3 separate regions of the Homo sapiens genome follow, and regions 1 and 3 are each linked to region 2. The links come from fine-mapping of genetic effects on gene expression. A gene starts in region 2. Each other region holds a variant in brackets. All regions are shown on one strand. Distances are from middle to middle. Region 1 overlaps LINC02137 (long intergenic non-protein coding RNA 2137). Region 2 holds the start of LINC02137 (long intergenic non-protein coding RNA 2137). Region 3 holds the start of SPMIP8 (sperm microtubule inner protein 8).

The links. PIP is the estimated chance that this variant, and not a neighbour inherited with it, causes the effect.
Region 1: its variant is fine-mapped to the expression of LINC02137 in nucleus accumbens (GTEx, PIP above 0.99). The same link has a PIP of 0.9 or more in caudate.
Region 3: its variant is fine-mapped to the expression of LINC02137 in cerebellum (GTEx, PIP 0.97).

The regions. Positions count from the first base shown.
Region 1 is chr16:58,458,129-58,469,010 of GRCh38, forward strand. LINC02137 (long intergenic non-protein coding RNA 2137) reads left to right here. Exons shown (of 4, transcript NR_187253.1): 3 at 3,343-3,454; 4 at 4,026-4,733. It also overlaps a transcript of NDRG4 not described here. Among named protein-coding and RNA genes, the nearest start is that of NDRG4, 37 kb to the right of the region's middle. RefSeq lists an enhancer at 1,237-1,531. The variant C/T (reference allele first, on the strand shown) is at 4,591.
Region 2 is chr16:58,415,105-58,426,088 of GRCh38, forward strand. It overlaps LINC02137 (long intergenic non-protein coding RNA 2137), which reads left to right and starts at 6,222. Exons shown (of 4, transcript NR_187253.1): 1 at 6,222-6,317. RefSeq lists an enhancer at 2,764-2,873.
Region 3 is chr16:57,975,282-57,984,055 of GRCh38, forward strand. SPMIP8 (sperm microtubule inner protein 8) reads left to right here and starts at 1,263. Exons shown (of 8, transcript NM_199456.3): 1 at 1,263-1,353; 2 at 2,534-2,758. The coding sequence starts at 2,536. The variant T/C (reference allele first, on the strand shown) is at 4,180.

The DNA of each region.
Region 1 (10,882 bases), 43 kb after region 2:
GAGAAAAACTCCATCTAAAAAAAAAAAAAAACAAAAAAACTAATACAATGTAAATGCTGTGTAAATAGTTGTTATGCTGTATTGTTTTTTATTTGCATTACTTTATAGTTACATTATTTTATTTTTTAATATTTTTGATTTGTGGTTGGTTGAATCCATGGATGTGGAACCCATGGACACAGAGGGCCACTGTATATATGTGTGTGTTTGTGTGTGTGTGTGTATATGTGTGGTGTGTGTGTGTGTGTGTGTGTATGTGCGTATGTATATATATAAAGCATTGAAGATCATACCCCCAAAATGTTAACACTGCCTATTGTTAGGCAGTGGAATTATTAGTGATTTTTATTTTCCCCCTGCATAAGGTTTATGCATTGAATATACATAACTATTATAATTTGTAAACAATATTATCAGTTCCACCTCTTGCCTTGACTCAGCACCAACTGGGTTTCCATGAGCCTGCTAAAGTTTCCAGGGGAAGTGGAGGGACATTTGCAAATGGCACTGGAGGGGGCTCTACTGTCCTCAGGAACCGAGGAGACAGTGGGGTGTCCAGAGTTACCAGGATAGCAAGGGGCTGGCCCTGCAGGGCAAAGGGCCCTTACATATCATGGGAGAAAGGGGATTGCAATAAAACCAGTGAGTCGTCCACGGTGGCCCAGGAGCAGGGAGCAGATAATCTGGTAACTGGTGAAATTCCAGAGCCAGGCTGAGGCCGGGAACTCTTCCCCACCCGCTTCCTCGTTCCAGCTTCCTCACCATCTACTCATGCATACCCAGGCCTCTCCACCTCAATTCAGGAGCTCCCATTGAGGGGCAGGGCTGCAATGTGCTTAGCTCTGTGCCTCCCTGAGCTCAGCACAGGGCCTGGCTGATCCAGTGTAGGATGGATGGATGGATGGATGGATGTTCTCTCCCTTTCGTCCGCCTCCCATCTCCATCTGCTGATCTTCCACCTCTTGGGGGCTCAGATGCCTCTTCCTCCAGGAAGCCCTTGCTGAGTCCCCTAGGCCTCCACTGCACTCTATGGTAACATCAATTACTCATCTTAGTAGAGTCGGCCTGGTACTGAGATTATGGGACTCTGAGCTGGTTTCCATCAGTGCATGAACCTTAAAGTCAAGGTCAATGTCCTGATCAGCTCTGTTCTCCATTGAACCCCACAACACCAAAAAGACGCTCAATCAATACTATGAAAGGAAAGAAAGGAGCCTCTCTTCTCTCCCTGAGTGTGGCTCAAGATTCGGAAGTAGGGAGTGTTACTGGGGAGGGGGAGACAGTTCCTATCTCCCCCACCCCTGCTAAGGGAAGAAGATTCATTGGCCCCAGGTTCATCATCTGCACCTCTGACTCCATCAGCTGGTTCTTTCTACTTGCTCCCAGTCATGGTCACGAGGGGATGGTGACTCAGCCCAATTCATCACCACAATGGAAAAACCCAGTCACCTGTCCTCCTGGCAGCAGGACTGGAGCTGCCTCTGTCTGTGGAAGGGCAGCAAGCCATACTGTTTTCAAGGTCCTTTTGTCTTTTACCTGCTGAAAAATCAAAAATTTAAAGAATGGAGGAGTACCACTGGTTTACATTTACAGTGTGGTATGAATCTCAACAACGAGGGATCGTTGAGATCCCTATGTTCCCTCCACGCCAGGCTCCAAGTCAAATGTCCATGTGCATCATCTTACAACAGTTTCACAAGACCATTGTTATCTGAAGTGGTCACTGGTCACTCTTGGCCCCCAGCAGCTGACACACCCTTTCTACAAGGCAGAGCCCACCTCCCACTAGAGAAACTGAAAACATCTTTCCCCAGCTTTGCTTACAGCTTTGCCAAAGTATATGACCTATGCTCCTCCAATCAGACATCCCATTCTATTTATTTATTTATTTATTTATTTACTTATTTATTTATTTATTATTTACCGAGACAGAGTCTGTTCTGTCACCCAGGTTGAAGTGCAGTGGTGCAATCTCATCTCACTGTAACCTCCGTCTCCCAGGTTCATGCGAGTCTCCTGCCTCAACCTCCTGAGTAGCTAGGACCACAGGCGTGTATCACCATGACTGGTTACTTTTTGCATTTTTTGTAGAGACAGGGTTTTGCCATGTTGCCCAGGCTGGTCTTGAACTCCTGGGCTCAAGCAATCTTCCTGCCTCAGCCTCCCAAAGGGCTGGGATTACAGGTGTGAGCCACTGCACCTGGGCGTGTTCTGTTCTTGGTTGTTAATTAGAAACTAGTGGCACGAGGAAGCCAAGACCACACAGAATCCACTGCGGTGAGGACTGGGGAAGCAGCAGCTGAGTTCCTGATGGCAGTGCCCAGTGACCACGTCCAGGGGTGGCACTGGCTGCAGCTTCTGTGCTGGGGGATGGCAGTAGTGGTTTTAACATCAGGCCAACATAGCAGTGTCAGGCCTGGCACCTGATATTCCAAGAGATGCCCACCCTCCTTTTTTTTTTTTTTCTTTTTCTTTTTTGAGACGGAATCTCACTCTTTTGCCCAGGCTGAAGTGCAGTGGCAGGATCTCGGCTCACTGCAACCTCTGCCTCCTGGGTTCAATCAATTCTCCTGCCTCAACCTCCCAAGCAGCTGGGATTATAGGCGTGTGCCACCACACCTGGCTAATTTTTGTATTTTTGGTGAGGTTTCACCATGTCGGCCAGGCTGGTCTTGAACTCCTGACCTCAAGTGATCTGCCCGCCTCAGCCCCCCAAAGTGTTGGGATTACAGGGTGAGCCACCATGCCCGGCCTATCCTCCTTTTAACAAAGCCTTTTTCTGCTTCAATTAGCCAGAGTAGGTCTCTATTTCTTGCAATTAAACACCCTGACTAGATATATCAGCCTGAGTTTACAGATGAGAAGTGAAGGCTCATTTGAGATCTTTAGAAAGGTTATCTCATCTCCGACCTGGGTGCAGGCCAGTGATCTTCTGCCCATTTTACAAGGCAGTGACTTAGGAAGCATGTTTCAAGTAATTAGGAGCAAGGCTGGGGGGACACTTTCTTAGAGGCCTCCTGTCCCAGGCAACAGCTTGGCTCTCTGCACTGTTCTGCTTTTCACTGTTAATCCAACCTGCTCCCAAACATCACCCCTCCTCCGCAGAGTGCTGAAGATGAAGAGAGCCCAGCGGCACAGGGGACCCAGAGCTTGCCCTTCTGCTGACTCAGTAGTGACTCCGCTGCCTGTCATGACTGATGTTTCCAGAAGGGTCAGGGCCTCCTCAACCTACCTCTTCCTTATGCACCTTTGTTTGATGCAATAGCCCTGGGGACTCTCACGATTACGTTTCTTCTTCATCTATTGTCTCCACTTTTATTTATTTATTTATGTATTTTTTAGACTCTATCACCCAGGCTGGAGTGCAGCAGCGCGATCTCGGCTCACTGCAACGTCCGCCTCCTGGGTTCAAGTGATTCTCCTGCCTCAGCCTCCTGAGTAGCTAGGATTACAGGTATGTGCACCACGCCCAGTTAATTTTTGTATTTTTAGTAGAGATGGGGTTTCACCATGTTGGCCAGGCTGGTCTTGAACTCCTGACCTCAGGTGATCCACCCACCTCGGCCCCCAAATGTGCTGGGATTACAGGCATGAGCCACCGCGCCCGGCCCTACTGTCTCCACTTTTAGGAGTTCAAATCCACAACCTGACTCACTGGAATGCTCACAGGAGTTCATGAACTATCTGAGCTACATGGATAGTCTGCATGAGTTCAAGGCCACTGCAGACACCATGTCTCAGACAGGCGTGTCATAGTGTCAAAGCTCCTGTTAGGCAGCCTGCAGAACAGCCTAGGCCCCGTGAATTATGTCACTAGAACATCAACAATTAATTTTGTCCAATGACAAAGTCTGAAATGACTGAAAAGGGTAGGACTCAGGTAAGCCTGAAAGAATCTCTCATGCGATAATAACAATTTCATCATGAATAATAATAATGACCATGTATTGAACACTTAAACTTAAGTCATGCGTCTGGCACTATATTAAGCATTTTCTTTATATTCTGTTATTTAATCTTTACAGGAATCCTGAGGTCAGCATCATCCCAATTTCACAGAGTATGACATGACGTCTCAGAGAGGGTAAGCAGCTTGCCAAACATTCCACAGCCAGGAAGCTGTAGGACCAGCCTGTGCTCCTAAGGACTGGCTCCTGGCTGCTATATATAGAACTAAGCCTGGTGGAGGTGTCAGAAATAGAGGTTCACTTCTGTCATCACCGACCTCCCTCCACACCTTTGCAAAGGAGGAAACTGAGAGGCAGGGATTTCCGCAGAGCAAGGAACCCAAATTGCTGCCTCCTGTGATTTATACACTGCACCCCAAGCTGTAGGGGTAACCCAAGGACAAAGCTGTAACCCAAGCGGGAACATATGCCCCATCTGGGGCCACCAAAATCTTACCAGCTTCCTCAGCTGGTGGATCGGTTAATTCACGGCCACAGCCCCCTGGAGCTGGGGGAAAGGAAAACCAGGGCGTCTCCGCAAACCAGCCCAGAGAGAGGTCTGCGGAAGGGCCCGGAAGCCTGCAGGCCCCTCTGCACCCCCAACCCCACCGCCATCCTGGACCTCCAAGATGACCTGGTCCAA[C/T]AGAGTCCTGCATGGAAAAGACTGGAACCCAGGGAGGAGCAGAGCCCCGCCCAAGGTCACCGGCCGAGCCTGAATAGAACCCGGTTCTCCAGGAGCCCTGTCTTTAGCTGTCTTGTCCAAATAAAATTTTTCAGGCCATCAGATTTCCGTACTCCCTGGAGTGGGACTTCATCTGGGACCAAAGGAGGGCTGGTGAGGGGAGTGGCAGGAGGGAGGAGTGCCTCGGGGCCCCGAGCAGGATGAGCCTGAGGAAGAGACGGGTCCCCATGTTCCCTTTCCCGCTCAGATAATGGAGGTGAATTGAGGGGAGCAGAGACCTCCCCACCTTCAGGGTGGGACCCTGAGGGACCAGGACACCTTTGCTAGGGGATGTCCCTCCTCACTCCTGCACAAGTTCCTCAAGGACACCCTCGGGCTCCGAAAACGGGGGGAGGGGGACGACGCCCCAGAGGCCCCTGAGCCCCTGGTTCTTCCCGACCCTAAGGGCTTTTCTCCCTCGGTTCCCAGGCGGCGACGGCGGGTAGCGCGAAGCAGCAGGCGCAGGGGCGCTGGGATGGGGATGTCTCTGCAGGTCTAAGGTTCCCCTTGGGAGTCTAAACAAAGACTACGGCAGCGCCGTCCCCTCCCCCGGGAACCCGACGCCGCGCGGCCACAGGGGGCCTGGAGGGGCGGGCAGGGCCTCGCAGCGCACCCAGCACAGTCCGCGCGGCGGAGCGGGTGAGAAGTCGGCGGGGGCGCGGATCGACCGGGGTGTCCCCCAGGCTCCGCGTCGCGGTCCCCGCTCGCCCTCCCGCCCGCCCACCGGGCACCCCAGCCGCGCAGAAGGCGGAAGCCACGCGCGAGGGACCGCGGTCCGTCCGGGACTAGCCCCAGGCCCGGCACCGCCCCGCGGGCCGAGCGCCCACACCCGCCAAACCCACGCGGGCACGCCCCCGCGGCGCACCGCCCCCAGCCCGGCCTCCGCCCCTGCAGCCGCGGGCACGCGGAGGGGCTCCTGGCTGCCCGCACCTGCACCCGCGCGTCGGCGGCGCCGAAGCCCCGCTCCCCGCCTGCGCGTCTGTCTCGTCCGCATCTCCGCGGTGAGTCGGCGGCGCCCTCGCCCCTGAGCCCAGGGCCAGCTTCTCTCGCCGCCGCGGCTGCTGCGCGCGTCCCCGCCCAGCCCAGCCCAGCCCCGAGCACGACCCCAGCCCCACGCACGACCCTAGCCCCGCGAGTCCCGCACCGACTCGCTCCCGCCCCATTTCGCCTCCGCGGGGGCGGCGCCCCCTCCTCCCCGCGGCTCCCGCTCTCCTTCCTCGCCTTCCCGGCCGCGCTGGGGACCCCCAGCCGCCGTCCGCGACCCCCCACCGCGACGCCCGGAGGCGGCGGGGTCTCTTTGTTCGGGCGGCGGGCACGGGGGACCACCTCCCACGGTGTCACCGCACCCACCCCGCGCCCTTCCTCCGCCTCCTGGAGTTCACCGGGACCAGGTGGCGGCGGGTGCCTTTTTGGGGGTGCGCGGCCATGCAATTGGTGGATTTTTTTAAACCGTTTTGGAGGGGGGAGCGCGGCGTTGGGGGCGGGAGAGCGCTCCTGGCTGTGAGCTGCTCCTGCCGCTTCGCTCCGCGCTCTCCTGCCGCTCCGCTCCGGGTCTCCCGCGCTCCTCTCCCCGGCTCGGCCGAGCGCGCTGCCCCGACGCCGCCACCCAGAGCCGGGCCGCGCCGGGCGCCGAGATGAAGGTGCTGGGACACCGGCTGGAGCTGCTCACAGGTACCGCCCGCCTGCCCCGCAGCCGGCCGCCACTTTCCGAGTTGGAGCGGACTCCGGGCGCGGCGGCCGGGGACTGGGGCGGCTCGGGTCTGAGCAGGAAGGGGTGCGGACCCCAACTAAGTCCTAGTTTTGTGCTACCTGTTTGTGTGCGGAGCCCAGCCCCGGGAGAGGACTTGAGGTTGTGGCGAGTCCCTGGCGCTGGCGTCCGGGCTGCGGGAGCACCGGTCAGGGGGTGGCCCCATGGGGTCTCTGACCAGCGGAGCTCGGATTAGGACCCTGAAAGCTAGCTCAGGGCTCCTGCCCTCCAATCAGTGTCGCTTGTCCCCTAAGAAAGGACCCGTGGGCTTCTGGCAGGACCCGCGCCATGGACCTCTTATTTCTGCGCCCTGTGACAATCTGAGCCGTCTTTCTCTGGGGGAGAAGTTTCTTGCTGGGAGTGGAGGCGACGCCAAGTGGCCTGGGAAGTGGGAAGCCAGATTGGACCCTACTGACTGGGGACCCTCAGCCTTGGGGCTCCTCTGGAGAAGTGATCAGTTGCCCTGCTGGAAACTCACATCCAGGGGGCAGTGGCTGGAGAGCAAGAGCGAACGGTCAGGAAGAGGAGGTGGGAAAGGGAGCAGGGACGGGGGGGAGGATTCGAGGAGTGACTTCTGTGTTCTCCCCGGTGTGGAGAGACCCAGACAGGAGGAAAGGAAAGCAACCCGGTTTCCTCCAGCTCTGGGACTTATAGGTGCTCCATCCGTGTATGTCAGATGAGCACAGATTCCAGTAAGTGTCCTCCGACACCTGGGGGAGGGGGCTGATCACTGCCTTCCAGGACCTTAATGTCCGATGAGGGAGCAGAGCCCCGGAGCCCTGTTACAAGGCTGGAAGGGGCAGCCGTCTGTGGGTGCGCTCAGGAAACGGTGGAATCCGAGTCGGGGGCAGCTTTTGAAGACCTCGAAAAACAATTTTTGTTAATGAAGAAGGAGGTGGCATTATGGGTTCAGGATCAAGGGAATGGCCCATGCTCTGGGGTGTGAGAGAGGCTTGTTCGGGGAGAGGTATGGAGGCTGAATGGCCTGGAATGTGCGTGTGTGTTGCGGGGGAGGGGGCTAGAAGGTGGGGGTGGGGTACGTTGGGTGAGGTTTTATTAAATCGGCAGTAGCAGGCCAGGCGCAGTGGCTCATGCCTGTAATCCCAGCACTTTGTGAGGCTGAGGCCAGAGGATCGCTTAAGGCCAGGAGTTCAAGACCAGCCTGGGTAACATAGCGAGACCCCATCTTTACAAAAAAATAAATAAATAAATCAGCAATAGCTCGTGACAGACTTGTAGAGAAGGAAAGGTGGAAGCTGTTCCTGGGACACTGGAAACTGACTGGGTGCTCAGAAGTTCCAGCGCTGAGCCCAGTTAGCCACGGGGCTGGCACCCCCTCCAATCCCTTGCCAACTTTTTCTTTGTGGAGCTCACTTGAGGCAGGCCCAGCTCACCCAACTTGGAAGGGAACCGCGCAGGCCACTGAACTTGTTAACCCCCTGGAGGGAAGGCTTGCGGTTCCATGGGTGTTTTGTTTGTTTGTTTTGTTTTGAGATGGAGTCCCACTCTGTCGCCCAGGCTGGAGTGCAGTGGCACAGTCTCGGCTCCCTGCAGCGTCCGTCTCCCAGGATCAAGGGATTCTCGTGCCTCAGCTTCTCAAGTAGCTGGGATTACAGGCACGCGCCACCATGCATGCCTAATTTTTGTATTCTTAGTAGAGATGGGTTTCGCCATGTTGGCCAGGCTGGTCTCGAACTTCTGACCTCAAGTGATCCACCTGCCCCTGCCTCCTAAAGTGCTGGGATTACAGGCGTGAGCCACCGCACCCAGCCCCCACCATGGGTTTTTAGAGCTCTGCATGGTGAACAGATCTCCTGGTTCCTCTCTTCCCCAACTCTTCCTGCCCCCAAAGGGCCTGGATGAGAAATGCTCACAGGAGACATGTGTGGGGGGCTCAAGCAGGGGTCTAGGCTTTGGAGACCCCATGCACTGTTCTCTCATCTCCTGGATAGAGGAGTCAGGACCCCTCTTCCCCCACCAGATGGGGTCACCAGATTCTGGCGGGCTTTCTAAGTCCCTGGCCAGGGTGGATGAGGCCCCTCTCAGTTACTGTCATCAGTCACAGGCTCCGCCCCCATTGTACCTGCAACCTGGCCCTGGGAGACAACCCATCCCCTCTGTTGCTATTTTGTGGTCTTCACAGACTTCCCTCTCTGTCCTCTTCCTTTTCTCACAGATCGGGATTCTAACTCCAACCCCATCAGTAGCCAGCTGTGTGACTTCAGACAGGTTGCTTAACCTCTCAGACTTCAGCCCTCTCATCTTAAAGATGGAACTGTTGGCCCCTGTCTCTAAGAGATGGTGTAAGGCTTGCTGAGATAGTGTAGGCGACACACGTGGTTGGGACCTAGACCCTGGTGGGCACCTCTTGGGCCCCACCTGTCCTGGCTGGTTGGCACCTAGAGCATTTGGATCTGCCCCCACCCTCCTTTATCCCTGCTTTCCTGCGTCTGTGAGATTTGACCCATCTCCCCCATTGGATAACAAGCAGGTCACAGTCCGGGAGGTGGCCACTTTATTGTGGTGGCACACAGCAAATGCTCAAGGGTTGCTGACTGAGGCTAGGCTCACACAGCCCACTCGGCATCTACGTCTCTAGGATAATTCTGTAGAGGCCTCTAACTCCCTGCCCCGACATCAGCCTTAGGAAATTTTTACTGAATTTTAAAAACTCATATTGAAGGCTGGGCACAGTGGCTCACACCTGTAATTCCAGCACTTTGGGAGGCCAAGGCAGGCAGATCACTGAGGTCAGGAGTTCAAGACCAGCCTGGCCAACGTGGTGAAACCCCCATCTCTACTAAAAATACAAAATCAGCTGGGTGTGGTGGCGCACGCCTGTAGTCCCAGCTACTTGGGAGGCTAAGGCAGGAGAATCACTTGGACCTGGGAGAGGGAGGTTGCAGTGGGCCAAGATTGCACCACTGCAGTCCAGCCTACGCAACAGAGCAAGACTCTGTCTCAAAAAAAAAAAATTGATTTAGTTCTGTATACTTTTCACATTCTCCTATTTTATTATCTTGCCTGTCTTGCCAGTGAAGTCAGTGACTTCCTCATGTTCCTATTTCTCAGAAGAGGCAGCACTGGATTCAGAACCCAGCCCTGAGCCGGGAGTTGTCCCATATGGCATTCTAACTGCCTGGCTTTGGGACAGTCTAATAGCCGTTCCACACTTCATTTTCCTCATCTGTAAAATGGGATCGTCGTGGTGCCTACCTGGCTGGGATCTTTGGAGATTAGGTGTGTGAGCGTGTGCAAGACGTCGAGTGCAGCTTCTGGCGGGCGGATAGTTGATGACAGTCGTGGAGCTGGCGTCCTCAGGCCGCCTCCCGAGTGCACTCCATCACTGTGCTGGGGGCTCCTTCTCCTCCCACTGTGCTCCAGTTTCCAGATTCCCTCCCCGCAGGGTGTTCCAGTTCCTTCGTTGGGTTCTCACAACAGTCCAGGCCTCTCTGAGCTGTGTCTCTGGGGGACCCTACTTAGGTCTCAGGTTCCTGTGAGTCAGGCATGGCCTCAGGGGGTGGGGCCCTTCCAGCCAGACACCCACAGCTCTGACATCATGGGGAAGGCCAGGTGCCCCCTCACATGTGGGACTAGAAGGAGACCCATGGGTTGTCATGCCCAGATCCAGCATGTCTTTTTGTTCTGGAGAGAAGAGGAGGCTGTTGGGGTCCTTCTGGAGGCTTTGTAAATCATGAATGCTTGTCGAGGCCATTTCCAGGCGCCTCAGCGGGGTCTTGCTGCAACAGGGACAAGGAAGGCGGGGGTTTTGGAATCAGAGGATGTGAATTTCGGGGTCTCCCCTGTGCTTCTCAGCTCCTGGGCAAATTGTTACCTTCTTTCGGCCTCAGTCTTATCAGTAAAATGGGAATAATAGCCCTCATTAACAGTGTTAGGCCAGAGCAGTTGTCTCACGCCTGTAATCCCAGTACTTTGGGAGGCCCAGATGGGTGGATCACCTGAGGTCAGGAGTTCTAGACCAGCCTGGTCAACATGGCGAAACCCCGTCTCTACCAAAAATACAAAAATGAACCGGGCTTGGTGGTGTGTGCCTGTAGTCCCAGCTACTGGGGAGGCTGAGGCAGGAGAATTGCTTGAACCTGAGATTAGGAGGTTGCAGTGAGCTGAGATTGCACCACTGCCCTCCAGCCTGGGCAACAGAGCGAGTCTCAAAAATATATATATTGTGGGGAGCCAAGATGATACTTGTGAGGGAGCCCAAGACACCGTCACACCTGCACACGAGCTCATTACAATTCTCAGAGGGCAGATTCCTGGTGCCTTCGGTAGCCGGATGATTTTTTTATTTTTTAGTGTGATATGTGAAAGTGGGACACTGGTCTTTTTGCAAGTAGGAAGGCAGTTGTTTCTGCGCATTGGCACTCGAGCAATATGTTCCAAAACGGTTCAGAGTCAGAGCTCTAAAATGGCAGATTTGGGCTCTGAAATGGTCCCTGGGGAGCCTCA
Region 2 (10,984 bases):
TCATTTTTACTGCTGTATATTATTCTATTGTGGGAACATGCCACAACTTCTATAAGTGTTCTCTTATCAGCAGACATTTGGTCCATTTCCAAGCTTTTTTTCTATTACAAACATTGTCACTGTGCGGATTCTTACACAGCATGCATTCCTCTGGGATGAACGCCCAAGTGAAAGTGCTGGCTTATAGGGTCTGCCAGTGCTCTACTTCACAAGCTTCCGCCAAATCACATGACTTTATTCACCCATCAACAGTGTATAAGAGTTTCCATTATTAGAATTCTTTTTTTTTTTTCCAATTTAATGGGTATTAAAAAATATCTCACTGTGGCCGAGCACAGTGGCTCACACCTATAATCTCACTACTTTAAGAAGCCAGTGGGAGGATTGCTTGAGACCGGTCTGGGAAATATAGCAAGACCCCCATCTTTACTTTAAAAAAAAAAAAAGCCAGGCATGGTGGGATGCACCTGTGGTCCCAGCTACATGGGAAGCTGAGGCAGAGGGACTGCTTGAGTATAGAAGCTCAGGGCTACAGTGAGCCTTGATCATACCACTGCACTGCAGCCCGGGTGACAGAATGAGACTCTATCACAAAAGAATTTTTATATATAAATTTATATATATAAATGTTATTCTGATTTGCGTTTTTCTGAGTACTAATGAGTTGCACATTTTAAAATATATTCATTGGCCATTTATGCTTCCTCTTTTGTGAAATGCCTGTTTACATGTTTTGCCCATTGTTCTACTGGATTGTTTATCTTCTTTTTACTGATTTATAGGTGATCTTTTTTTTTTTTGGAGACAGAGTCTTGCTCTGTCACCCAGGCTGGAGTGCAGTGGCGCCATCTCAGCTCACTGCAACCTATGCCTTCAGGGTTCTAGCGATTCTCCTGCCTCAGCCTCCTGAGTAGCTGGGATTACAGGTGCCTGCCACAACGCCCAGCTAATTTTTGTATTTTTAGTAGAGACAGGATTTCACTATGTTGGCCAGGCTGGTCACAAACTCCTGACCTCAGGTGATCCACCCACCTCGGCCTGCCAAAGTGCTGGGGTTACAGGCATGAACCACCGCGCCTGGCCAGTATAGGTGTTCTTTATACTAATCCTTTGTCAGTTATCTGTGTTGCAAAATTCTCCCATTCTGTAGCTTGTCTTTTAATTTTCTTTGTAGTATCTTTTTTTATTTTTCCTTAGAAACAAGGTCTCCCTGTGTCACCCAGGCTGGAGTGCAGTTGTGGGATCATAGCTCATTGCAGCCTTGAACTCCTAGGCTCAAGCAGTCCTCCCACCTCAGCCTCCCGACTAGCTGGGACTATAGGTACATGCCACCACACCTGACTTCTTTTACTTATTTAGAGACAGAATCTTGCTGTATTTCCCAGGCTAGTCTTGAACTCCTTGCCTCAAGTGATCCTCCTGCCTCAGCCTCCTGAATCACTGGGATTACAGGCATGCAACACCACACCTGGCTAAATTTTTTTTCTTTTTTTTTCTGTATTTTTTTTATTATTATATTTTAAGTTCTAGGGTACATGTGCATAACGTGCAGGTTTGTTATATATGTATACATGTGCCATGTTGGTGTGCTGCACCCATTAACTCGTCATTTACATTAGGAATATCTCCTAATGCTTTCCCTCCCCCCTCCCCCCACCCAACAACAGGCCCTGGTTTTAAAATATATTCATTGGCCATTTATGCTTCCTCTTTTGTGAAATGCCTGTTTACGTGTTTTACCCATTGTTCTACTGGATTGTTTATCTTTTTACTGATTTACAGGTGTTCTTTTTTTTTTTTTTTTTTTTTTTTTTGTGGAGACAGAGTCTCACTCTGTCACCCAGACTGGAGTGCAGTGGCGCCATCTCAGCTCACTGCAACCTACACCTTCCAGGTTCTAGCCATTCTCCTGCCTCAGCCTCCTGAGTAGCTGGGATTACAGGTGCCTGCCACAATGCCCAGCTAATTTTATATGTATTATCTCATTTAATTTCCACAAAAACCCTAAGAGATGAATTATTGTTATCCCCCTTTTACAGATAAAGAAATAGACTCAGTGAGGTTAAGTGTGTGCCGAAGGTCACACAGCAACCAGTGCTGGGCCCAGGGCTGGAAACCAGGTCAGGCTGATCCTGAGATCCGACTCTTCTCTGCTCTGCTGCACTGTGCGATGAGCAACAGAGCAGGCCAGGGCAGCCTCTTCCCACCGCACTATCAGGTGTCTCTCGCTTCAGTCCTGGTCCTCCCAACACCGTTTCTATAGGACTTGCCATCCCCTCTTCCCACCGCACTATCAGGCGTCTCTCGCTTCAGTCCCGGTCCTCCCAACACCGTTTCTATAGGACTCGCCATCCCCTCTTCCAACCGCACTATCAGGCGTCTCTCGCTTCAGTCCTGGTCCTCCCAACGCCATTTCTATAGGACTCGCTATCCCTTCTAAGTGTCTCCTTTGGCAAAATTGGCCCAACCTATGCCTATGTCATATCACCATTATCTGCAGTAAAAACAGGACTCCTCCTTCTGTTTCAAAAGACTGCTCATGTCATTGACAACCCGTGCTCATTCTCGAGATTGCAAGCTGCTATTTTTGAAAAGTTATTTTGCATGACATTTTGCCTCAGGGGCCCTTGGTCTGTTTAATCTGGGTATCTCAGTTGGCAGAACACTGTGTGGCTCTCCGGATTGATTACATGTGTCTAATCTGCAGCTCTGGCTGTTGCAAAAACTCCCTTGCCTCCTTCTCTCTGCCTCACCCCCAACTGCCTTGCTCAAAACAGGTGATGGGTGGCTCATGGTTGGTCCGGAGGAAGGGGGAATCCGAGAAAGCAGAGGCTACACAGTTCAAACAGTCCCCTGCAGGGCAGGCTTGGCTGTTTTCTGGCTTCTTCTGCTGGGAATTTCACTGACAGCAGAAATTAATCCCACTTATTCACTCATTCATTCGCCCCTCCAGTGAGGGTCTGAAGTCAGGAGTGGAATGGTCATCCCTCACTGCCCTGTGGAGTTTACACTGTAAAGGGCAAGGCGGACTATAAACGGGATTACAATAAGATCTGTGAGGTGAATTAAAGGGCATGTGTAAATAAAGACAGAGTCTCGCTCTGTCACTCAGGCTTGAGTGCAGTGGCACAACCCTAGCTCACTGCAGCTTTGAACTCCTGGGCTCAAGCGATCTCCACGCCTCAACCTCCCAAGTAGCTAGTACTACAAGTGTGTGCCACCACATCTGGCTAATTTTTCTTGTTCTTAATTTTTATAGAGACGGAGTTCTCACTATGTTGCCCAGGCTGGTCTAGAACTCCTGGCTTCAAGCAATCATCCCACCTCAGCCTCCCAAAGATTGGGATTACAGGTGTGAGCCACTTTGCCCGGCTTTCAGGGACCTTCTTTAGTGAGTCCAAAGAGGGGCTCTCTGAGGAAAGATGCAGAGCTGGCTGGGTGAAGAGCCCAGAGGAGGTCATCATTCCAAGCAGTGAGAGGAGGTGAGAAGTGTGTGGCTTGGTTGGCCTGCTTTAAGAAACAAAAGCAGGCCTGGGTGGCAGAGGTGTGGATGAGAGTGACAGGAGATGAGGGAGTGGGGAGGAGGCAGAGAGCAGATCTTTTGAGGCATGAATATGATAGAGCTGGCCGTAGGGGTGGAGCTGACAGTCAGGGAGTGGGAGGACATTATTAGATCATCACAAGTGTGAGCCCAGGACGGGCCATACACATTGCCTTGAGAGCCTTTGGCAGGGCCACCTTCCAAGTCAGGCTGTGTGTGACTGGAGGGCCTCCGGGGAAGGTAACTTTTAAGCAAAAGTCCATAACAGGAACTGGCTGCAGTGACTCATGCCTGTAATCCCCCTGCACTTTGGGAGGCCAAGATGGATCACTTGAGGTCAGGAATTCGAGACCAGCCTTGCCAACATGGCAAACCCCGTCTCCACTAAAAATACAAAAAATAGCCAGGCATGGTGGTGTGGCCTGTAGTCCCAGCTACTCAGAAGGCTGAGGCAGGAGACTCACTTAAACCCGGGAGGTGGAGTTTGCAGCGAGCCCAGATCATGCCACTGCACTCCAGCCTGGGTGACAGACCAAGACTCCGTCTCAAAAAAAATAAATAAATAAACCCACCACAGTGGTTCTCAAAGGTGTGGTCCCCAGGCCAGCTGCATCAGCACCACCTGTGAATTTGCTAGAACTACAGATTCCAGCGCCCACCCCAGACCTACTGAGTCCTCCAGAGCACAGAGCACGGAGCCTAACACGTGCTGAATTCATGGCCTCCGAATTGCAAGCTGTCAAGTTCCAGAGTGTGCTGACGTGTTAAGATGCACAGAGTCGTGTCATGGGGACACACCCTAGCCAGCAGGTTGTGCCCACCCCGGCGTGGAATGAGGACAGAGCCCAGCTTGGGTGGGTTTAGCTGATTTTAAGGTGCCAGGGTAGAAACAGAAATGCGTCTGCACAGCTGTGCTGGGTGAAATTTCACACTTGGCAAGGTGTGAACAGAATTAACATTTGCTGGAACAGGTTGGAAGCCTTTAGACTGTGAGTTACAAAATCAGGCAAAGAAAGAAAAAAAAAGGAAGGGGGAAAATTAGGTGATCTTCAACCTCATTAACTCAAGCCCAGCTGCAGAGGATGTTACCAAATTATCCACTAAGAAAACCCACCTGGGGCTGAGAATAAGCCTGAGACTTCAGGCCCCAGGGGTCCTTTTGAAAAGAAAGTTCTCCGCCTGAGAACAGTTGCTCTCACGAAAGCGCCTCCTCCACAGCCCCTGCAGAGCATCAGGCCTCGACACTTTAATTGCTCCGATAGAAACAAGCTAATGGGGTTTTAATAAAAATAGAACCCAAATAGGCGTTGATCCCCTATTTTTTGCAACCAGAGGCACTGCCACAGTTTCAGTGCCATCGGTGCTAGCTAGGGGGGTCTCCATGCCATGAGACCCTGGTGAGAATTAAATAAGGAAAACAAGCTTATGGATTCGATATTTTGAGAGCTTCAACAAAAACCAGAACTCTGTCAACAACAGCCTGGTTTATCCTAGGTCCAGGGAAAAACAGGTCAAGACACATGCCCCAAATCACTAAAGGCAATAAAAGCTTGGTAGGGGTAGGGGTGCCCGCGGTCCTGCTCCCCAGCACTGGAGTGAGCAGGACACTGGCTGCCCCTCAAGATAATTTGAATCTTCAAAAAGTAAGTAAGATGTCCGTTTTTTTGGCCAGGTGTGGTGGCTCACGCCTGTAATCCCAGCACTTTGGGAGATGGAGGAGGGTGGATCACCTGAGGTCAGGAGTTCAAGACCAGCCTGGCCAACATGGCATAATCCTATCTCTACTAAAAATACAAAAATCAGGTGGGCATGGTGGCTCACACCTGTAATCTCAACTACTCAGGAGGCTGAGGCATGAGAATGGCTTGAACCCAGGAGGCAGAGGTTGCAGTGAGCCGAGATTGCGCCACTGCACTCCAGCCTGGGCGACAGAGCAAGACGCTGTCTCAAAAAAAAGTCCGTTTTTAGTGCATCTGTAGTTTCAGGTAGGATCATTTAGTAATTAGGGGTCCAGGCTCTGGGCTGGGAGCCCCCAAGTTCAAACCCCAGCTTTGCCATTTTGGAGCCACGTGACGTGGGAGTACGGTGCTTAGCTCAGTGCCCCACTTTCCTCATCTGTAAAACGGGAACCATGATTATACTCACCTGGTAGGATTTTGAGGTGCACTAAATGGGTTCTATGTAAAATGCTTAAAGCAGTGTCCTGCACGTGGTAAGCCCTTGAGTAATGCTGGCTAGTGGGGGAGATCGGGAATAAACAAGTAACAATGAGGATTTCAGACAGGGATAGAACCATGAAGAAGACAAGCAGGCTGAGGTGGTAAATAATGGGGGCAAGAGGGGTGGCTGCACTGTAAGAAGGGCCCTCTGGGTAGTCTGTGGAGCCACCGGACACACAGAGGCCTGGAGCATCCAGGCAGGGGAGCCAGGAAGCCAAATCTTTAAATGGGGAACAGTGTAGGCATTCCAGGCTGGAGAAGGATGGTGATATAGTTTGACGATGTCTCCACCCAAGTCTCATCTTGAATTGTAGTTCCCATAATCCCCACGTGTGGTGGGAGGGGCCCCGTGGGAAGTAATTTAATCATGGGGGCGGTTTTCACCGTGCTGTTCTCGTGATAGTGAGTGAGTTCTCACAGATCTGATAGTTTTATAAGGGGCTTTCCCCCTTTTGCTTGGCACTTCTCTTTCCTGCTGCCATGTGAAGAAGGATGTATTTGCTTCTCCTTCTGCCATGATCGTAAGTTTCCTGAGGCCTCCCCAGCCATGTTGAACTGTGAGTCAATTAAACTGCTTTCCTTTATAAATTACCTAGTCTCGGGTATGTCCTTATAGCGGTGTGAGAACAGACTAATACAGATGGCCTTGGGAAACCAGGACACCCCCCTTGGGAGGCTTCTGTGATAAAGGAGGTGAGAGATGAAGGTGCCTGGGGCCAGAGGGAGAACTGTGGGGATGTCAAGAAGTGAAGGGAGCCAAGAGGATGTGGTGACGACAGGATTCCAGATGACTTGCAGGCTTGTGGCTTCAGAGCTGGGATGAGAAAGCCCCGGGAGAAACAGCTTTGGCCTAAGATGCCATAGCCCCACCTGGCTGTGCGCTGCAGCCCTCCTACCTCTATCCGGGGCATGCTTCATCCCACCTGGCTGTAAGCCCAGCAGCACTTGCATAATTTCCCACTTGACTTTTGTCCCTTACTTTCCACATCGCTCCAAGATATTTACAACTAGTGTTCTTGCTTAGGACATAAGAGTGTGCCCCAGGCCAGGCACAGCAGCTCATGCCAGTAATCCCAGCACTTTGGGAGGCTGAGGTGGGAGGATCACTTGAGGCCAGGAGTTTGAGACCAGCCTGGGCAACATAGTAAGACCACATCTCTACAAATAATTTAAAAATTAGCCAGGTGTGGTGGCAGCACCTGTGGTCCCAACTATTCAGAAAGGCTGAGGTAGGAGAATTGCTTGAGCCTGGGCAGTCGAGGCTGCAGTGAGCCGTGATGGCGCCACTGCACTCCAACCTGGGCAACAGAGCAAGACCCTGTCTCAAAAAAAAAAAGTGCCCCTTATGGCTGCATCACTGTTTACATAACATTTGTCCTTTGCTGGAGACACAGCCTGTTTGTTTTTTTACAGTTTTTTCTTGTTGTTGTTGTTGTTTTGAAACGGACTCTTACTCTGTCACCCAGGCTGGAGTGCAGTGGCACAATCTCAGCTCACTGCAACCTCTGCTTCCCAGGTTCAAGCGAGTCTCCTGCCTCACCCCTGAGTAGCTGGGGTTACAGGCATGCACCACCACGCCTGGCTAATTTTTGTATTTTTAGTAGAGATGGGGTTTCACCATGTTGGCCAGGCTGCTCTCAAACTCCTGACCTCAAGTGATCTGCCCGCCTCGGCCTCCCAAAGTGCTGGGATTACAGGTGTCAGCCACCAATCCCGGCCTGTTTGTTTTTTAAATAGAGACAGTGTCTTGCTATGTTGCCCAGTCTGGTCTCAAACTCCCGGCTTCAAATGATCCTCCTACCTCGGCCTGCCAAAGTGCTGAGATTACAGATGTGAGCCACTGTGTCCGGCCCAGTGATGGAGCCTGTTTCTATCTAGACAGTAACCAAAACCCATGGCCGTTTCCTAAGACTATCAGTTTGCAAATGGAGTCCTTGAGCAGTTCAGTAAGGGGAAAACATTTTAGAGTTTAGGGGCTTTTATTTTAAAACTTTCATATTTTTACTGTGTTAAATTGATGACATATATAATACATGGTCCTGCATGTACAGACTTCTGAAAGATTCAAGTAACCAGAACAAAACAAGTCCCCTTCACCATCGCCTCCCACACCCACACCCAGCTCCGGGAGGTAACAACATCAACAAACAGATGGCTTCCCTCCAGTTCCTTTCAACGCCTTCATGCTCACATGTAGTCCTTTATGTAGGTTGGATCCTATTATACATTCTGTTCTGTGCCCTCCCTTTTTTACCTAACAATATCTCGGAGATCTATCTACCTTATTCTTGTTTAACAACCACAGAGGTTTTCAGAGTAGGGAAAGATCATATTCTATTTAACCACTCAACTTCTCTGAAGGATTTGGGCTGTTCATAAATTTTCACAACGTTACGGTGAACGTCACAGGACTTACATGCAGCCGCATGTGCAAGGATTTCTGTAGTGCAGACTTCTGGAAAGGTGGAATTGATGGAGCATAGAGTAAGTACATTTAAAATTCTGATAGGGGGCCGGGCGCGGTGGCTCATGCCTATAATGCCAGCACTTTGGGAGGCAGAGATGGAGGACTGCTAGAGTTCGAGACCAGTCTGGGCAACATAGCAAGACCCACATCTCTTAAAATTCTGATAGGGACTACCAAATTTTCTGCCCAAAGTCTGCCTTTTTCTAAAAACAAAAAGTATATTTAATGACAAAAGTAACATTCCTGTAAACATGTAATGAATACAAACAAGACCAGAAAATAAGTTTTAAAACACCCAGAATTTCATTACCTAGAAGTGGCGATATTAACATACATAGTCAATTTGAGTCATTTTACCATGCATATAGGTAGAGATAAATTTTTAATGAAAATGTGGTCAGAACGTAGACTCTTTAGTAACCTGCCTTTTGCAGTTAACTATATGCAACAAAGCTCTTTCCAAGTCATTAAAGATTCTTGGATTTTGTTTTGTTTTGTAAAGATGGGCTCTCACTAGGTTGACCAGGTTGGTCTTGAACTCCTGGCCTCAAGCAGTCCTCCCATCTCAGCCTCCCAAAAAGCTGGGATTACAGGCATGAGCCACTGCACCTGGCCTAAAGATACATCTATGGTGACATTCCAGATTCTTAACATCATTTAGGGACAAGAAAAGGGAAGCTTATGTGGAAGGAAGGAAGGTAAAAAATTTTTTTAAGACTATGCTAAAAGCAGCATTGACAATTCCTAACTTTGCTTATGTAGGAAAATTATTCTACAACCCTGGTTCCTGGAGGTCTTTGAGAATCTGATAAAGCTGAGGCGGGTGCATCACATGAGGCCAGGAGTTCGAGACCAGCCTGGCCAACATGGTGAAACCTCATCTGTACTAAAAATACAAAAATTAGCTGGGCGTGGTGGCAGGCACCTGTAATCCCAGCTACTCAGGAGGCTGAGGCAGGAAAATTGCTTGAACCCGGAGGCAGAAGTTGCAGTGAGCTGGGATTGCGCCCCTGCACTCCAGCCTGGGCAACAGAGCAAAACTCTCTCGAAAATAAAAAGAGTATGGGCTCTTGATTCAGACACAAGAAACACAACTTTGAATCCTGGCTTTACTACATACTCTTCAAACCCTCCGCCTGTTTCTTCACTTGTAAAATACAGACGATAATCAGCAGGTTCTAGGGTTGCTGTGAAGTTTAAATAAGTTCATACACATAAAATGTTTGCAACAAGGTCTACACACAGTAAGTGGTAATTAAATGCCAGCTCTCATTATTTCCAGTGTTTTGCCCTTGTGACATTTCTAACCATATCTTTGTGCACATCTGTGATTACTTCCAAAGGATAAATTCCTAGATGTAGAATAGCTGGGTGGAATCATGAGCATGTTTATGAGATTTGGTTTTGGTTTTTTTTTTGTTTGTTTGTTTGAGACAGAGTCTCACTCTGTTGCCCAGGCTGGAGTGCAGTGGCGCAATCTCAGCTCACTGCAACCTCTGCCTCCTGGGTTCAAGTGATTCTCCTGCCTCAGCCTCCTGAGTAGCTGGGATTACAGGCATGCGCCACCATGCCCCACTATTTTTTTTTTTTTTTTGTATTTAGTAGAAACGGGGTTTCACCATGTTGGCCAGGCTGGTCTCGAATCCCTGACCTCAAATGATCCACCCGCCTCGGCCTCCCAAAGTTCTGGGATTATAGACGTGAGCCACTGAGCCTGGCCATGTTTATAAGATTTTGGATACATGATGCAAAACTCTTCTCTAAAGCCTCAGATTCAATGATGGTTCTAGGACTGGTTAACAGTGGTAAAGAAAATGCACAAAAATCCTTGCCCTCCTGGAGTTTCCATTAGAAAGGGAGTAGACAGTCAAACTGAAAATGTGATCTATTGGGAGGTGACAAGTGCTATGGAGGAAAATAAAGCAGGGCTGGGCTTAGGAGGGCTGAGACAGGGTGGGGGCTGCAGTTCTACAGAGGGTGGTCGGGGGGCTTCCCTGAGAAGGTGACATTGGAGCACAAAGACTTGAAGGAGGGAGGGAAACATGCAGACGCCTGAGGGGAGAGTGTTCCAGGCAGAGGGAATAGCATGTGCAAAGGTCCTGAGGCAGGAACTTGCCTGAGTGGAGGGGGGAGGATGGGAGGAGAAGAGGATAGAGCAGCGAAGGGGTGGGACATGTCATGGAGGGCCTGGTGGGTTGAATCGAGCTACACTTTTTTTGTTTGTTTGAGACAGAGTGTTGCTGTGTTGCCCAGGCTCGAGCGCACTGGCACGATCTCGGCTCACTGTAACCTCCATCTTCCAGGTTCAAGCATTTCTGGTGCCTCAGCCTCCCAAGTAGCTGGGACTTAAAGGCATACACCACTAGACATGGCTAATTTTTGTATTTTGGGTAAAGACGGGGTTTCGCCACGTTGGCCAGGCTGGTCTCGAACTCCTGACTTCCAATGATCCACCCGTCTTGGCCTCCCAAAGTGCTGGGAGGGAGCAGTGTTAATTTCATACCACTGTAGCTCTAGGAAGGGTGAAGCAGGCATTCAAAAAGACAATGAGAACTAATCAAAATTGTGTTTTCCTTGTTTCAACTTGTGCTTAAAAGCACTAAAAGGAAGTGACGACTCTCATTGTTTCCCAAGAAAATCAGAGGTTCCTTGTTTTCTCAGTAAAACATGCGAATATTTCAGATACTCAAATCCAGATACTTTTTTCCTAAAACACTAAGAACCAAGAGTAAAATGAAAAGACACACACCTGTTTTG
Region 3 (8,774 bases), 440 kb before region 2:
CCTCAAGTGATCTGCTCACCTCAGCCTCCCAAAGTGCTGGGATTACAGGTGTGAGCCATCGTGCCTCACAATATACTTTCATTTCTCTTGGGAAGCCTCCTGGGGTAGAATCTTCCAGATGACCCAATCATATGGTACATTTCTGTTTCATTTTTTAAGAAACTGATAAACTGTTTTAAAAGTAGTACTCCATGTCTTGACCAGGGTGGGTGGTAGTTATACGGGGTCTCATTTTGTAAATTATTAGTTACATTAGATATTTATTCACTTTCTGTATTTCTTCTATTTTATAACTTTAAAAGAGTCAAGAAATAAATTGGGGGTGGGGTGGTGAGTGGAGTCAACTCTGGGAAGGTTTTTTGTAAGGGGTAGCAGTTAGGAATGCTGTTCTGGAAGCTGTATGGAGCACTGGAGGAGGAGCAACTGGGGAAACAAATCCTACAAGAATTTCACAGGAGGGGCTCCAAGACCCATCAGGTTCAGCCCCTGGGCAGGTATATGCAAAAGCACATGCCAATATATGCAAATAAGTTAGGATCTCCTGGGGTTTCCTCACCTTGGGGGTCTGTCTCTAATGGTTGTGACCAGGATGGTGGGCAGGCCCCAGGGCTTTGGGGTGCTGGCCTTGGGCACTCACAGCCTGGCTTTTCTGGGAGCCTGCAGTCCTGCAGGGGCTGAGGGTGGAGTATCATCTGCTAATCCCTGGCCTGCTGAGTCCACCACTCTCCCTGATCCCCTCACGCTTACCCTGGATACTGGCCACAGCTAATCTCCACTCCTGGAGACTCAAGGGCTGGCAGACAGTGCAGTGCCCTCTTCCCTGAGGGTTCCAGGGAGGGGAGATCCCTCTCAGCATCCAGATCCTCCTAACGGCAGATCCTAGAGTCCTTGCCTAACACAGAGGAGAGCCTTGAGTCCCAGAGAGAGGCGGTAATTAGCCCAGGATTACACAGCCTGCAGTGGGCTCAGTAGCCATTTCTGGCCTGCCTTGGCCTGACTACCTCCAGGGAACCCCAGCTCCCCATCTGACATTTCCCAAGATGCCTGGCCTGTGCTAAGGCCTGGGAGACCACAGCCTTCAGGAAGGCTGGAAGGGAGTGGCCAGAGCACAGGAATTCTGGCACAGGCTCTTGTTAGAGCCTGTAGTTGCCAGGGTTGCTAAGGAGTGGGTGCCTCAGAATCAGGCTGCAATGGGCATTGTCTGTGCACAATGTTCCTTTATTCTGCTGCTGTCCATAATAAGGGCTCGTCCACCTCCCTTCCTCTTCTGCCCATTGAGCAGTCAAAGAACTGAAAGTCCTTATAAGCCTGTGCACCTGGGCCTGGGCCCTACAGATAAGGTAGCTGCTATTGGTGAGTCAGAAGCAGGGAGCCCTTGCTCTCTTCCCCATATCCGTGATCCCCCTCCCTGTCCCTCCCCAGGCAGTCACATCCCCTAAGGCAGCTTCCCCATGCCTTGTCACCATGCCCCCTCCCTGCTCCTCCATGATCTAAGGTCCTCTCTCCTCCTGCCACCCTAGCTTCCACCTCCACCTCTCACCTCTAACTCAGGGTCAGGAAGAAAGCAAGCTGTCTCAACAAATTCTCACTAAAGTGTAAATGACTGAAAGGCTCCTGGGACTATCTGCTTTTTAAAGGGAGGCACTGGGTATCCAGTAATGCTTTTCTAGTTTAAATATATCATGTTGCTCCCCTTCCTGAAAATCTTTCTGAGTCAATCTGTAGAATTTTGGGTAAATAGCTAGGGCAAGTCCATAATTATTCACCCAGAGGTATACGGCATACTAAGCTACATTCTGAACCCGCTTGCTGCTGCACTTTCCTGCTTATTATTTAAGAATAGACTCGCCAGGCAAGGTGGCTCACACCTGTAATCCCAGCACTTTGAGAGGCTGAGGCGGGTGGATCACTTGAGGTCAGGAGTTCGAGACCAGCCTGGCCAACACAGTGAAACCCCGTCTCTACTAAAAATACAAAAACTAGTCACATGTGGTGGTGGATGCCTATAATCCCAGTTCCTCAGGAGGCTGAGGCAGGAGAATCACTTGAACCCAGGAGACAGAGGTTGCATTGAGCCAAGATGGCGCCACTGTACTTCAGTCTGAGCAGAAGAGTGAGACTGTCTCAAAAAAAAAAAAAAAAAGAAAAGAAAGAAAGAAAAAAAAACGAATAGACTCAAATACCACCTCTTTTAGACCATTCCTTGAATGTCCTAACCCCAGCCTCCCCAGAAACACACACTCTGTACTGACCTCCCTCACAGCCATGGCACAATGTGAGTGTGTGTGTGTGTGTGTGTGTGTGTATGTGTGTGTTGGAAGGGGAGTGGGAGGGTTGTCTCTGTTATCTTCTGTTATCTGAATGTTCCTGCCACCTCATGCTGAGCTCCAGAAAAATGGCCTGGCACACAGTAGGTGCTAAATAAATGTTTGGCAAGTAGACATCGGCACTGGCCAAGGTTGTTTTCATGCAGAGAAGGGTGTCTGGCCAGCATGAGCCCAGGGTGAGCCCCTTAGAACCCTCTGCCCCCCAGCTATGGCCCGCATCATTGACCTGGTGCCCTGGGACGATGGCTCCACACATGTGTATGCCTCCCCGGCCATCCTGCTTCCCATGGAGCGGCAGCGCAACCAGCTGGCGGGCGTGAAGCAGCAGCTCTACCACCCAGCCCTGCCCACCCTGCGCCACATGGACAGGGACACCGTCAAGGCCTGCCTTCCTGATGAGCACTGCCAGTCCACCACCTACTGCCGCAAAGGTTAGGACACCAGTGTAGGATCCCCTTTGGGGAAGGGGCAGATGGTTTCAGGAAAGAGGGAGACAGATGCAAGGATGAAAGAGGCCAGTCCCAGCTCTGCTGCTCCCTGCCCAGGACACTTTGGCCAGGTCTGAGCCTCTGTTTACTGCTCAGTACAATGAGGATAATTGACAAGGCCTACCTCAAAGTGTTGTTGTGGGGTTAGAAGGAGATAAGGCACAAAAAACACTTAGAGGCTGGGCGCAGTCCCAGCACTTTGGGAGGCCAAGGCAGGCTGATAACCTGAGGTCAGGAGTTTGAGACCAGCCTGGTCAACATGGTGAAACCCCATCTCTACTAAAAATACAAAACTTAACCAGGCGTGGTGGCAGGCACCTGTAATCCCAGCTACTTGGGAGGCTGAGGCATGAGAATTGCTTAAACCTGGGAGGCGGAGGTTGCAGTGAGCCGAGATCACATCACTGCACTCCAGCCTGGGCAACAAGAGTGAGTCTCCGTCTCAAAAAAAAAAGCACTTAGAGTAGTGCCTGGCACATAATATGTGCTCAAAAAGTATTGCTGATGCCATTGTTGTTATTGTTGTTTTGTTTTTTGAAGACAGTGTCTTACTCTGTCGCCCAGGCTGGAGTGCAGTAGCATGATCACAGCTCACTGCAACCTCGACCTCCCAGGCTCAAATGATCCTCCCATCTCAGCCTCCCGAATAGCTGGGACCACAGATACGTGCCACCCTGCCCTGCTGATTTTAAAAAATTATTTGTAGAGACAGGGTCTCCCTATGTTGCCTAGCCTGGTCTCAACTCCTGGGTTCAAACGATCCTCCTGCCTTGGCCTCCCAAAGTGCTGAGATTACAGGCATGAGCCACTGTGCCTAGCCTGTTGTAATTAATGGAGAGAGAACTGGGCAGAGGTTGACAGGTGCAGTGGTAGGAGTCATAACAGTAGTAACTTCTGCCCAAGCATCTCTGTATGTGGAAAAGAGAGAGAAAGACCTCTCCTCACAGCCCCCATGCAGGAGAGGAAGACGTGTGGGCCTTCAGGGCAAAAGAGCCCCACGGGCCTAGTGAATAACCCCGCATGGACTGAGGAGCTTGCGTGTGGAGGGATTTAGAAGGTATTTAGCAGATAAAGTCAACAGGAGTAGGTGCAGGCGGGGCAGGGTAGGAGGCCAAACAGGGGGAGTGCAGGCCCATACCTAGGCTCCAGCTTGGGTGACAGGTGGGCTGAGGGTGTCAGAGACCGCACGGAGATTACCAGAGTTGCCACATGGGCCCTAATGGGAAACACAAGTGAGGGAAGTGGGTGGGGAGGCCGTGGGGAAGGAACACTCCACAGGGAAAAGGGGCACCCACACCTGCCCTATTTAAACGGCAGCCACGGGGTTCCCCACAGACTGTGCTATGTTGGAGGGGCCAGCCAGG[T/C]CACCAGTTCTTCCAATTTCCCGCTTCTGAGAGAAGCCAGGAATCTAGATTTTTAAGGAAAGCTCTGATGTAGATATGTATTTTATTGTAAGCATATGCTTTAAGTAAAAGTAATAGTCAGAACTTCAAAGCTCAAAATGCTATAACAATATGCACAGCAACAAGGCTCACTCCCACTGCCCCCGCATACAGGTAACCACCCCCCCACCACATTCTTAGTTTCTGATGTCTCTCCCTGGTTTACTAATGGGAATATAAACACATGTTATTTTGCTCCCCAACTTTTTATTACTGTTAACTGAAAACCCAGAAATTTGTAAATTTAGGCAGGGTACGGTGGCTCACACCCACAATCTCAGCACTTTGGGAGGCCAAGGCAGGCAGATCACGTGAGGTCAGAAGTTCGAGACCAGCCTGGCCAACATGGTGAAACCCCATCTTCACTAAAAATACAAAAATTAGCCGGGCGGGGTGGCGGGTGCCTGTAATCCCAGCTCCCAGGCTGAGGCAGGAGAATCACCTGAACCCGGGAGGCGGAGGTTGCGATGAGCCGAGATGGAGCCACTGCACTCCAGCCTGGGTGACAGAGCGAGACTCCATCTTCAAAAAATAAAAATAAATGTATAAGTTTAGAAAAGGAGACTTTATTTCTTACAAGGGGTTATAGCTGCCAGGTGGCCATCCCACAGGCTGGAAAGTGTGCCTCCAGCTTAAGCCCAAAGATAGGCATGTCAAAGGAGGAGGGGTTGGGTAAGAGCTTTATGTTCAAAGGGTTGGCTAAACATACATATTCAATAGTTTATAGGAGGAGCTATGAATATTCATGAAGATAGTACTGACATGGGCATATTGAACAAACATGCATGTAACATACAACCCATGTTCGCTTTGAGGTGGAGACTTAACCTTTAAATGTATTACAATTAGTCCCTATACGTCAAAAGTTCTTTTCAGGACGCGAAGCCCAGCAAGTGAGCAGCCTCTGTATGCTGGGCAGGACCAGTCCATGGTTGGTGGTCTTCTTACCTGGAGAAAGTTACTGAAATCAGCCTCTTATGCAATCAAAGGCATAGCTGTGGCTGGTGGATCAGGGGGTCAGTTCATCAGCATCTGTGAGCTGTATGAGTTGTAATTGTTTTAATATTGCTTATCTCAAGTCCAGGGCTAGAGAAAAAGAAAAACCTCATGGCAATTAAAACATAGCTTATTTATTTTTGTGTTTTGCTTTTCGTTTTGTTTTGTTTTGTTTTTTTAGACAGAGTTTCTCTCCATCACCCAGGCTAGAGTGCAATGTCAAAAACATGGCTCTTTACAGCCTCGACCTCCCAGGTTCAGGTGATCCTGCCACTTCAGCCTCCTGAGTAGCTGGGACTACAGGCACACACCACTATGCCAGGCTATTTTTGTTGCTGTTGTTGTTGTTTGTTTGTTTTGTGTGGAGACAGGGTTACACTATGTTGCCAGGGCTGGTCTCCAACTTCTGGGCTCAAGTGATCCTCCAGCTTCAGCCTCCCGAAGTGTTGGAATTACAGGCGTGAGCTACCACGACCAGCCTGTAGTTTATTCTTTAAGTGTAGGGGTGCGTGACTTAACCCTTGCCTGGCATGGCCTTAGGTCCTGTTAATAATCTGGTATCTTGGCCGGGCGTGGCGGTTCACGCCTGTAATTCTAGCACTTTGGGGGGCCAAGGCAAGTGGATCGCCTGAGGTCAGGAGTTCAAAACCAGCCTGACCAATATGGTAAAACCCTGTCTCTACTAAAAATACAAAAATTAGCCAGGTGTGGTAGTGTGTGCTTGTAATCCCAGCTACTGGGAGACTGAGACAGGAGAATTGCTTGAACCCAGGAGGCGGAGGTTGCAGTGAGCCGAGATCGCGCCATTGCACTCCAGCCTGGGCAACAGAGTGACACTCCGTCTCAATAATAATAATAATTATTATTATTATAATAATAATTATTATTATTATTATTATAATTTGGTATCTTATTGCCACAAAGAGTCTGTTCTCTTAGTCTTGTAATCTCTCTCTCTCTCTTTCTCTTTTTTTTTTTTTTTTTTTTTTTTTTTTGAGACAGAGTCTCACTCTGTCACCCAGGCTGGAGTGCAGTGGCGCTATCTCGGCTCACTGCAACTTCCGCCTCCCCGGTTCAAGTGATTCTCCTGCCTCAGCCTCCTGAGTAGCTAGCTGGGACTACAGGCGTGTGCCACTACGCCCAGCTGATTTTTGTATTTTTAGTAGACATGGGGTTTCACCATGTTGGCCAGGCTGGTCTCAAAATCCTGACCTCAAGTGATTGGCCTCCAAAACCACTGGGATTACAGGCGTAGCCACCGCACCTGGCCTTGTGATTGCTAGTTTAACATTAATGCTGGTCATTTATTGTGTCTAAACCGCAAAAAGGCAGGGGTGGAATGAAGCATGTCTGACCTCCTGTCCCATTATGGCTGGGAACTCAGTTTTTCAAGGTTTTGGGGGATCCCCTTAGCCAAGAGGGGGGTCCGCTCAGTCAATACATTGCGGAGACCTCAGGATTTTATTTTTAGTTTACATGATAAACATTTTCAAATGGAGAAAAGTTGAAAGAATACTACTATGAGTACCCACCACCTTCCTCCTGCTTCAGTTGATTTTTGCCATATTTTTGCTTCTCTCGCCCTCTCTCTTACATTCTTGGACACCCTTTAGCAAGCAGCTCCCAATGACAAAAACATCCTTCTACATGACACAATACCATTATCACACCTAGGAAAGCTAACAATACTTCTACAACATCTAATATCCAGACCATATTAAAATCTCCCCAATTGCCCTCAAAGATGTCTTTTCTGGCTTTAAAATGATTTTTTGGAACAAGAATTCAATCTAGGATTACGTATTTCAGTTACTTGTTATGTCTTTTGTCTTAGTCTAAAACAGTCCACCCAGTTTCCATTGCCCACCATCATACTGACTTTTTAAAGTCTCTAACAGTTGTGTTGTAGACAGTCCCATATGGTGAATTTGAGCCACTGTTTCTTCATGGTGTTTCTTATCTTGTTAATCTATTTTCTGTAAACCAGCAGCTAGGTGTAGAGATCTGAATCACCAGGTTAAACACTGCTGGCCAGAATCTTTCACAGGCGACAGATGCCGTGTTTGCCATAATGCTGCAGCAGGAGGCACAGAATTTCATTATCACATTATTTGTGATGCTAAGTTTGATTATTTGGTTAAGGTGATGACCTGAATATATATTCTCTGTTTCCAACAGTCTATGTTTAGTCTACCATTTTAAAGCAAACAGTAGGCCGGGCGCAGTGGCTCACGCCTGTAATCCCAGCACTTTGGGAGGCTGAGGTGGACAGATCACTTGAGGTCAGGAGTTCAAGACCAGCCTGGCCAACATGGTGAAACCCCATCTCTACTAAAAATACAAAAATTAGCCAGGCATGGTAGCACGCACCTGTAATCCCAGCTACTCGGGAGGCTGAGGCGTGAGAATCGCTTGAACCTGGGTGGCGGAGGTTGCAGTGAGCCGAGACCGCGCCACTGTACTCCAGCCTGGGCGACAGAGCGAGACTCTGTCTCAAAAAAAAATTTTTTTTAAAGCAAATGGTAGCATATTGTATATACCCATCTGCACCTTGGAGTTCTTGTATAGAGAAATTCCTCAACTTGTTAATTTATTTATTAAAAACAAGGTCTCGCTATGCCACCCAGGCTGGAGGGCAGTGGCATGATCACAGCTCACTTGCAGCCTTAAACTCCTGGGCTCAAGCAATCCTCCTGCCTCAGCTTCCTGAGTAGCTGAGACTACAGGCTCGAGCCACCATACCTGGCATTTTTTGTTTTGCTTGATTTCTAGGCACTCTTTCAATATTAAGGAATATTAATTAATATTAATATCTGTAAAATAAGTGGAAATATTTTTTCCATTTGTTTTTTGACATTTGTTTTTGCCATGTAGAAGTTTATTTTTATGTATTTAACTTATCAATCTTTTCTTTAAAGCTTCTGGATTTTTAATTAAAATTATTAAGGCCTTTCCCATCCCAAGATTATAAAAGAATTTGCCCATGTTCACTTTTTACATTGGAATCTTTGGAGTTTTATTCTGTTGCAAAGGTAAGATGTGAATACTATTTTATCTTAGATTTTTTTTAAGTTGTCAAATTAAAAAAAAATTTTTTAAGAGAGTCTCGCTCTGTTGCCCATGCTGGAGTGCAGTGGCGCAATCTCAGCTCACTGCAACCTCCACCTCCTGGATTCCAGTGATCCTCGTGCCTTAGCCTCCCTAGTAGCTGGGACTACAGTCGCGTGCCACCACACTCAACTAATTTTTCGTATTTTTGGTAGAGATAGGGTTTCACCTTGTTGCCCAGGCTGGTCTCGAACTCCTGAGCTCAAGTGATCCACCCGCTTTGGCCTCCCAAAGTGCTGGGATTACAAGTGTGAGCTACCGTGCCCAGCCTTTTTTTTCTTTTTTTGAGACACGATCTTGCTCTGTCACCCAGGTGGAAGTGCAGTGGCATGATCACTGAAGCTTCGACCTCCTGGACTCAAGTGATCCTTCTGCCTTAGCCTCCCGAGTACCCGGGATTACAGGTGCTCGCC